Regions from separate parts of the Homo sapiens genome. Here region 2 is reported to be linked to region 1. The links are microRNA targets in miRTarBase. Many come from high-throughput screens and were not tested one by one. Region 1 holds a microRNA gene; the other region holds the end of a gene's coding sequence.

Region 1 (4,067 bases):
CACGCCCAGCTAATTTTTGTATTTTTAGTAGAGACGGGGTTTCACCATATTGGCCATGCTGGTCTCGAACTCCTGACCTCAAGTGATCCACCCGCCTTGGACTCCCAAAGTGCTGGGATTACAGGCATGAGCCACTGAGCTGGTCAAGATTCTGAACTACAAGAATACCCATCTATCTCATGCAGAGAATGGAATGAGCACTAGATCTTAACTACCACTAGCCCAGCCTCTATCATTTACAGAAGAAACACGGATCCAGAGAGAGGAAGTGACCTGTCCCAGGTAACAGCCAAGGACCAGAGTGAGGAGTCCAGATCCTCCCTCCTTGCTCAGTTCTCTTTTCACAGTCCCTCAAGGCTGCTTAGGGACACCCTGCCATTCCCTTAGGATGACCCTGCACCCTAGCCACAAGCAGCCCTCATCACTCCTTCCCCTGTGCCCAGGCGCCTACTTGGCATCCTGGCCCTCGAGCAGGCTGCGGTAAGTAGCGATCTCCTGCTCCAGCCGTGTCTTTATGTCAAGCAGCATCTTGTACTCCTGGTTCTGAGCCTCCATCTCGCATCGGAGCTCACTCAGCTGGGCCTCCAGGCCACCAATGAGCCCCTGGATCTGCTGCAGCTGCGTGGCATAGCGGCACTCTGTCTCGGCCAGTGAGTTCTCCAGCCCAGCTTTCTGGGGGAGTGACAGATGCATAGACACATCAGGCTAGAAAGGAAGCCACTGAGGGCAAGCAGGGAGGGGGCACTGAATGGAGTTCAGGGAACCACCTCTTGAGGGGGCTTGAGAACTCCAAGGCTTAAATAGCCAGGAAGAGTGGGAGCTTCTACCACCCGAGAGGCTGGGATGGGGCGCGAGTGGCCGTACCATGCTGAGCTGGGACTGCAGCTCGATCTCCAGCTCCTGCATCGTGCGTCTCAGGTCTGTGATCTCCGTCTTGCTGGTCTGGATCATTTCTGTGTTGGAGGCCACCTCTTTGTTCAGCTCCTCAGTCTGTAGGTCATGCACAACAGAAGTGAGCCCCGGGGCCTCCTCGGAGACTCAGGGACCTGGGGCAGGAAGGGCAGGGCAGGATATAAGGCCCACCTTGCTGAAGAACCAGGCCTCGACATCCCGGCGGTTCTTCTCCGCCATGGCCTCGTACTGCTCCCTCATCTCTGCCAGCACACGGGTCAGGTCCACACCCGGTGCTGCGTCCATCTCCACATTGACCTGGCCGGCCAGCTGGCTGCTGAACTCCTTCATCTCCTGCAGGATGGGAGGGACCCACTTAGAGACGGAGAGCAGAAGAGAGACCTGAGAGTCTGGCGTCACACATGCCAATCCTGGCTCTGCCCGTAACACACCCCAACCGCTGTTCCCCATTGCACATGAAGAGGTTTGGTCACATGGACCCCTCAGCTCTAAGGAGTTCTCTGCTGCTCTAGGTCCTACCAAGGGAGGACCCCGAGACTGTAGGGCCCTGATGTGAGCTCACAAAGCCAATCAGGAAGTCAACCATTCATACGGGCCACCTGGGCTGGCTGTGGGCCTGGGCTACCAGACACTGCCCCTTCCTCTCCATGAGGACACCTGGTTTTGTGGGGTAGGTGTGTTTCTGAACCACTAAGCCCCAGGCCAACTATGAGGAAGTACCAACAGCCCCACTCTGCCTCCCACTGACTTAATCTCGTGAAAATCTGGGAGGGCTTCCTGGAGCCACTGTCTTTCCCTCTGGGCAATTTAAGTGAGTTTTGGGAAGAGGTTCCCCACCTCTCTCGGGTTCAGGGGTGATGGGGGCCAGCTCTCACCTCTTCGTGGTTCTTCTTCAGGTAGGCTAGCTCCTCATTCAGGCCCTCGATCTGCATCTCCAGGTCAGTCCTGGCCAGGGTCAGCTCATCCAGGACTCGGCGCAAGCCGTTGATGTCAGCCTCAACGCCCTGGCGCAGGGCCAGCTCATTCTCATACCTGAGGAGAGGGAGGCCAAAGAAGGAAGTGGGAGGGGTCTTGGCTGCCTGAGTCAGAGCCAGGAGAAGGCCAAGTAAAGTGGGCAATGCAGGAAGAGGAGAGAGACGGGGGAGCGCACTTGAGCCTGAAGTCGTCCGCAGCCAGCCTGGCATTGTCGATCTCCAGGATGACCCGGGAGTTGTCGATGGTGGTGGCCATGATCTGCAGGAGACAGAGTCGGTGTCTAGAGGACTCCTCTCTCTCCCCTGCTGCTCTCTGCTCTGCACCCAAGGCCAGCCCCTCATTGAAAATCACCCCTCACTGACAATCACCCCTCTGACACCACCAACAAAAATCTGTACGGCTTCTGGGGTGGGCAAAGTCCAGCCTCACTTTCAGTGTCCATTTCTTGTTTTGTCCCATCCAGCCTCCTTGAGACACCTGAGGAGCTGCCTTCCTTATCTCCAGGGCACGAAAGACCAAGGAGGCAGTATTGCCTGTGGGAATTGGTTGCCCAGGAGAGTGGGGCAGTGGGGTGCAGCCAGCTCTGACAATAGCTCTCTCAGAGACACTCCACCAGCCCCACTGTGGACAACTCATGGTCACTGCCTCCTGCACACCTTGGACACAGCCATGGATCTACAGAACATTCCAGCCAGTAGCAACCTGGAGGGCAGTTAAGAAGGCATTTTACGAATGAGGAACCCAGTCTTAGGGAGTAAAATGGTGAGTGAGTGGGTGGCAGAATGTGTAATGAGTTCCCAGGTCTCCTAAGACCCAACAGTACTTTTGGCACAAAAGACCTCTTTATAGGAAAAGACAAGAGGTTCTAGCATCTGGAACTCATGAGGCCACACTCCAATCCCATTCTTGCAAAAGAGGTAAAGGAATACTTTATGCAGAAGCCTGCAGGGTGCATGAGGTAGGGAGGGCGAGTTGCTCTTTTTTTTTAATTATTTTTATTTAATTAGATACAGGTTCCACTCTGTCACCTAGGCCGGAGTGCAGTGGCACAGTCATAGCTCACTGCAGCCTCTAAATCCTGGACACGAGCAATCCTATCACCTTGGCCCCCCAAAGCACTGGGATTACAGGTGTGAGCTACTGCCTCTGGCTCTTTATAATTGCCCCCACCTGTGCCCCTGTTGGTCCTAACCAGATTCCCAAGACCCCTCTCTCCCTCCCCCAGCACCACCAAGTTGAGAAGATGTGCACTGGCCTCTGCACCTGGACAGCAGGTGCATTCCAAATTTGCTGAGATTACATACCAGACAGTCATTGCCTGGGCAGGAAAGGATTTCCTTGAGTCAGCAGTAACACTGACATTAGAGCTGTGTACAGGGTACCAGCCACCTGCTCCCCTCTCTTTGACATCCGAGGACTCACCTTGTCCCGGAGCTCTTCAATGGTCTTGAAGTATTGGCTGTAGTCGCATTCTGGGCTGGTTGGGGTCTGCTTCTGGTACCAGTCATGGATCTTCACCTCCAGGTCAGCATTGGCCTCCTCCAGGGCACGTACCTTGTCCAGGTAGGAGGCCAGGCGGTCATTGAGGTTCTGCATGGTAATTTTCTCATTGCCAGAGAGGAGACCACCATCGCCACCACCAAAGCCACCACCAAAACCCCCACCAACGCCCCCTCCAAAGCCTCCACCGAAAACACTACCAGCCCCTCCACCAAAGCCACAGACCCTCATGCCACCCCCATATCCTCCTCCTGACCCTGAAGAGACAAACCTAGCAGAAGAAGCTGAGATACTTCGGCTTCCACCTCCCCCAGAGAGACTCCCCCCACCAAAGCCACCTCCCCCAGCCAGGAGGGAACCCCCTCGGGTTGAGCCACCCCCAAAGGTGGAGGAAGAAGTTTGCAGAAATGTGGTGGTCATGGCCAGGTAGCTGGAGCCCGTGAGTTCTCAGCAAACCCAAGAGATGCTGGCAGGAGGTACCAGGCCAGGCTGCACGCTGGGGCTCCTTATATACCCTTCAGAGGGTGTTGTGGGACCTCGTCTCCTCCCCTAAAGCAAAGCCAACTCCTTCTGCCTTCCTGACAAACACAGCTGCCTGCACACCTTGAGTGGGTCATGTGAAGTTTTTCTCTTCTATTTTTTTTTAATGCAACAAAAGAGATGATTCAGAATTAATAGTG
Region 2 (4,066 bases), not on the chromosome of region 1:
CCTTCCCAAGGGATAATCTGGGTATGTGGGGCAGATTACCTTCCTCAGAATTGCTGCCTCGCCCATGTCAAACACCAGTGTAAGGGACGTAGGGACACAGAGACAGACTTCCAGACTCACCTTCCTGACCTCTGTGTGCTTACAACATAGAGGTGGAGCAGAGCCTCCTTAGCCTGTGGGCAGGCGGTTCAGAGAGGACTGAACCCCCCCTGCTCAGCTACTTCTCCCAGTCTCACCAATCAAATAAATTCACTCCTGTTTCCTTGGAGAAGAGGGAGGGATAGAAATGATACCCCTCTCGGGAAATGAAATGAAACTCTCCTTTATGGCCAAGATACAAACACTGGTAGGGAACAAGGATGGCTGTCCTTGTTAAGGTCACTCAGATGAACCAGTCTGGGCCATCAGTAGTGGGTTGACACACATATCCAAATCCAGTCTTTGTTAGTACTAAGTCTCTACTAAACAGAAAATAGCAGTATTTTGAGTTGTTTTACAATCATAAATGAATTAATGTTATTTCCTATTTATGTTGAAGGTTCGTGCAGACTAACAGTACACCATTTTTTAAAATCACTGCTTTGAATCGCCTTAACCAAAATCTCTTTCTTTTCTAGGCACAGGGTGGTGGTTTCCTATCCTCCTCAGAGTGAGGCAGAACTTGAACTTAAAGAAGGAGATATTGTGTTTGTTCATAAAAAACGAGAGGATGGCTGGTTCAAAGGCACATTACAACGTAATGGGAAAACTGGCCTTTTCCCAGGAAGCTTTGTGGAAAACATATGAGGAGACTGACACTGAAGAAGCTTAAAATCACTTCACACAACAAAGTAGCACAAAGCAGTTTAACAGAAAGAGCACATTTGTGGACTTCCAGATGGTCAGGAGATGAGCAAAGGATTGGTATGTGACTCTGATGCCCCAGCACAGTTACCCCAGCGAGCAGAATGAAGAAGATGTTTGTGTGGGTTTTGTTAGTCTGGATTCGGATGTATAAGGTGTGCCTTGTACTGTCTGATTTACTACACAGAGAAACTTTTTTTTTTTTTTAAGATATATGACTAAAATGGACAATTGTTTACAAGGCTTAACTAATTTATTTGCTTTTTTAAACTTGAACTTTTCGTATAATAGATACGTTCTTTGGATTATGATTTTAAGAAATTATTAATTTATGAAATGATAGGTAAGGAGAAGCTGGATTATCTCCTGTTGAGAGCAAGAGATTCGTTTTGACATAGAGTGAATGCATTTTCCCCTCTCCTCCTCCCTGCTACCATTATATTTTGGGGTTATGTTTTGCTTCTTTAAGATAGAAATCCCAGTTCTCTAATTTGGTTTTCTTCTTTGGGAAACCAAACATACAAATGAATCAGTATCAATTAGGGCCTGGGGTAGAGAGACAGAAACTTGAGAGAAGAGAAGTTAGTGATTCCCTCTCTTTCTAGTTTGGTAGGAATCACCCTGAAGACCTAGTCCTCAATTTAATTGTGTGGGTTTTTAATTTTCCTAGAATGAAGTGACTGAAACAATGAGAAAGAATACAGCACAACCCTTGAACAAAATGTATTTAGAAATATATTTAGTTTTATAGCAGAAGCAGCTCAATTGTTTGGTTGGAAAGTAGGGGAAATTGAAGTTGTAGTCACTGTCTGAGAATGGCTATGAAGCGTCATTTCACATTTTACCCCAACTGACCTGCATGCCCAGGACACAAGTAAAACATTTGTGAGATAGTGGTGGTAAGTGATGCACTCGTGTTAAGTCAAAGGCTATAAGAAACACTGTGAAAAGTTCATATTCATCCATTGTGATTCTTTCCCCACGTCTTGCATGTATTACTGGATTCCCACAGTAATATAGACTGTGCATGGTGTGTATATTTCATTGCGATTTCCTGTTAAGATGAGTTTGTACTCAGAATTGACCAATTCAGGAGGTGTAAAAATAAACAGTGTTCTCTTCTCTACCCCAAAGCCACTACTGACCAAGGTCTCTTCAGTGCACTCGCTCCCTCTCTGGCTAAGGCATGCATTAGCCACTACACAAGTCATTAGTGAAAGTGGTCTTTTATGTCCTCCCAGCAGACAGACATCAAGGATGAGTTAACCAGGAGACTACTCCTGTGACTGTGGAGCTCTGGAAGGCTTGGTGGGAGTGAATTTGCCCACACCTTACAATTGTGGCAGGATCCAGAAGAGCCTGTCTTTTTATATCCATTCCTTGATGTCATTGGCCTCTCCCACCGATTTCATTACGGTGCCACGCAGTCATGGATCTGGGTAGTCCGGAAAACAAAAGGAGGGAAGACAGCCTGGTAATGAATAAGATCCTTACCACAGTTTTCTCATGGGAAATACATAATAAACCCTTTCATCTTTTTTTTTTTCCTTTAAGAATTAAAACTGGGAAATAGAAACATGAACTGAAAAGTCTTGCAATGACAAGAGGTTTCATGGTCTTAAAAAGATACTTTATGTGGTTGAAGATGAAATCATTCCTAAATTAACCTTTTTTTTAAAAAAAAACAATGTATATTATGTTCCTGTGTGTTGAATTTAAAAAAAAAATACTTTACTTGGATATTCATGTAATATATAAAGGTTTGGTGAAATGAACTTTAGTTAGGAAAAAGCTGGCATCAGCTTTCATCTGTGTAAGTTGACACCAATGTGTCATAATATTCTTTATTTTGGGAAATTAGTGTATTTTATAAAAATTTTAAAAAGAAAAAAGACTACTACAGGTTAAGATAATTTTTTTACCTGTCTTTTCTCCATATTTTAAGCTATGTGATTGAAGTACCTCTGTTCATAGTTTCCTGGTATAAAGTTGGTTAAAATTTCATCTGTTAATAGATCATTAGGTAATATAATGTATGGGTTTTCTATTGGTTTTTTGCAGACAGTAGAGGGAGATTTTGTAACAAGGGCTTGTTACACAGTGATATGGTAATGATAAAATTGCGATTTATCACTCCTTTTCATGTTAATAATTTGAGGACTGGATAAAAGGTTTCAAGATTAAAATTTGATGTTCAAACCTTTGTATGTCCCTTGTGTCAGTCCTTAAAATTTTGCTTTTTAAAAAAACAAAACAAAACAAAAAACACGGGACACATTTGACCTAATTTGTACCTCACAAAAATTCTTTGCATACATCTCAAGCGGAAGATGTCTACAGGAATCAATTTGGTGATTATGACACATTTTACCTCTGCAACTAACAAACCTTGTTTATTTCTCCAAGAAGCTTAAAAAGAGTTTGTGGAGTCGCACGAGGTCATGTATGGCACTTGTGTTCCCCTCTTCCTCTTCCAGTTACTAAAATAATCTGGTGAGTGCTAGTTGTCTTAGCCATAGAAGGAAAAGCAGACCTATCAACCAATAGTATGATAACCCGTAAGTCTCAGCATGGCTTGGGGACAAAATCTTTAGATTCACCATGGTTTTAATTTCCCATGAAATGAAAGGCCCATGTAAGTCATGTTAAAAACTATTTTCTTATTAACTTTTGGCTACTGTCAAATGACTTATCAGAATTGAAAATCAGGAATTCTAGGTTGTATTGTAGCTTTTCCAAAAACTATCTCTGTAGCCACCTGGGCAAGTTGATTATTACTTAGTTTCCTCCTTTTGGTGTCCCATCTACCCCACTGGGTGAGGATGAGGAGCAAAGGAGATAATCTCACTGTTTTTGAAAAGTGCTATTTTAATGTGTGGCATTAAGTTTATCTCTGGTTTCAAATATTCATCTCACTCTCTTGGAGTATATGATATAATGCTTTTCAGGGTCTGATTGGTTTTAGAAGGAACAAATTAAGGTGATGTTTCCAACTGCTATGCATTTAACTTTCTGTTCCTATAATAGAACATATTTGCATACCTCCAGAAGAACATTCAATTCTCTGAATATTTCAATCCAGAGCTATAAACAACATTAGAATTCGGCTTTGGAAATTGTGTTTAATAGATGTTTGACTAAGTTTAATAGATGTTTGACTAAGTTTAATAGATGTTTGACTAACAACTCTTTGTGTGTATTCATCAAATTTTTAAAAATGTGT

What was found. Region 1 holds the annotated microRNA hsa-miR-6510-5p (CAGCAGGGGAGAGAGAGGAGUC, at 2,174-2,195, opposite strand). A microRNA usually pairs through its seed, bases 2 to 8, with sites in the 3' UTR of a target mRNA and lowers its output. Matches are read on the target gene's strand: a 7mer-m8 pairs with bases 2 to 8, a 7mer-A1 pairs with bases 2 to 7 and ends in A, and an 8mer does both.
Region 2: miRTarBase lists SH3RF1 as a target of hsa-miR-6510-5p. Seed matches in the 3' UTR shown: 8mer at 1,269-1,276.

Annotation. Positions count from the first base shown.
Region 1 is chr17:41,515,021-41,519,087 of GRCh38, forward strand. It overlaps MIR6510 (microRNA 6510), which reads right to left and starts at 2,197; the gene lies at 2,144-2,197. It overlaps KRT15 (keratin 15), which reads right to left and starts at 3,870. Exons shown (of 8, transcript NM_002275.4): 1 at 3,310-3,870; 2 at 2,063-2,145; 3 at 1,788-1,944; 4 at 1,084-1,245; 5 at 865-990; 6 at 452-672. The coding sequence starts at 3,807. RefSeq lists an enhancer at 1,621-2,505.
Region 2 is chr4:169,093,239-169,097,304 of GRCh38, reverse strand. SH3RF1 (SH3 domain containing ring finger 1) reads left to right here. Exons shown (of 12, transcript NM_020870.4): 12 at 618-3,046. The coding sequence ends at 786. Among named protein-coding and RNA genes, the nearest start is that of CBR4-DT, 85 kb to the right of the region's middle.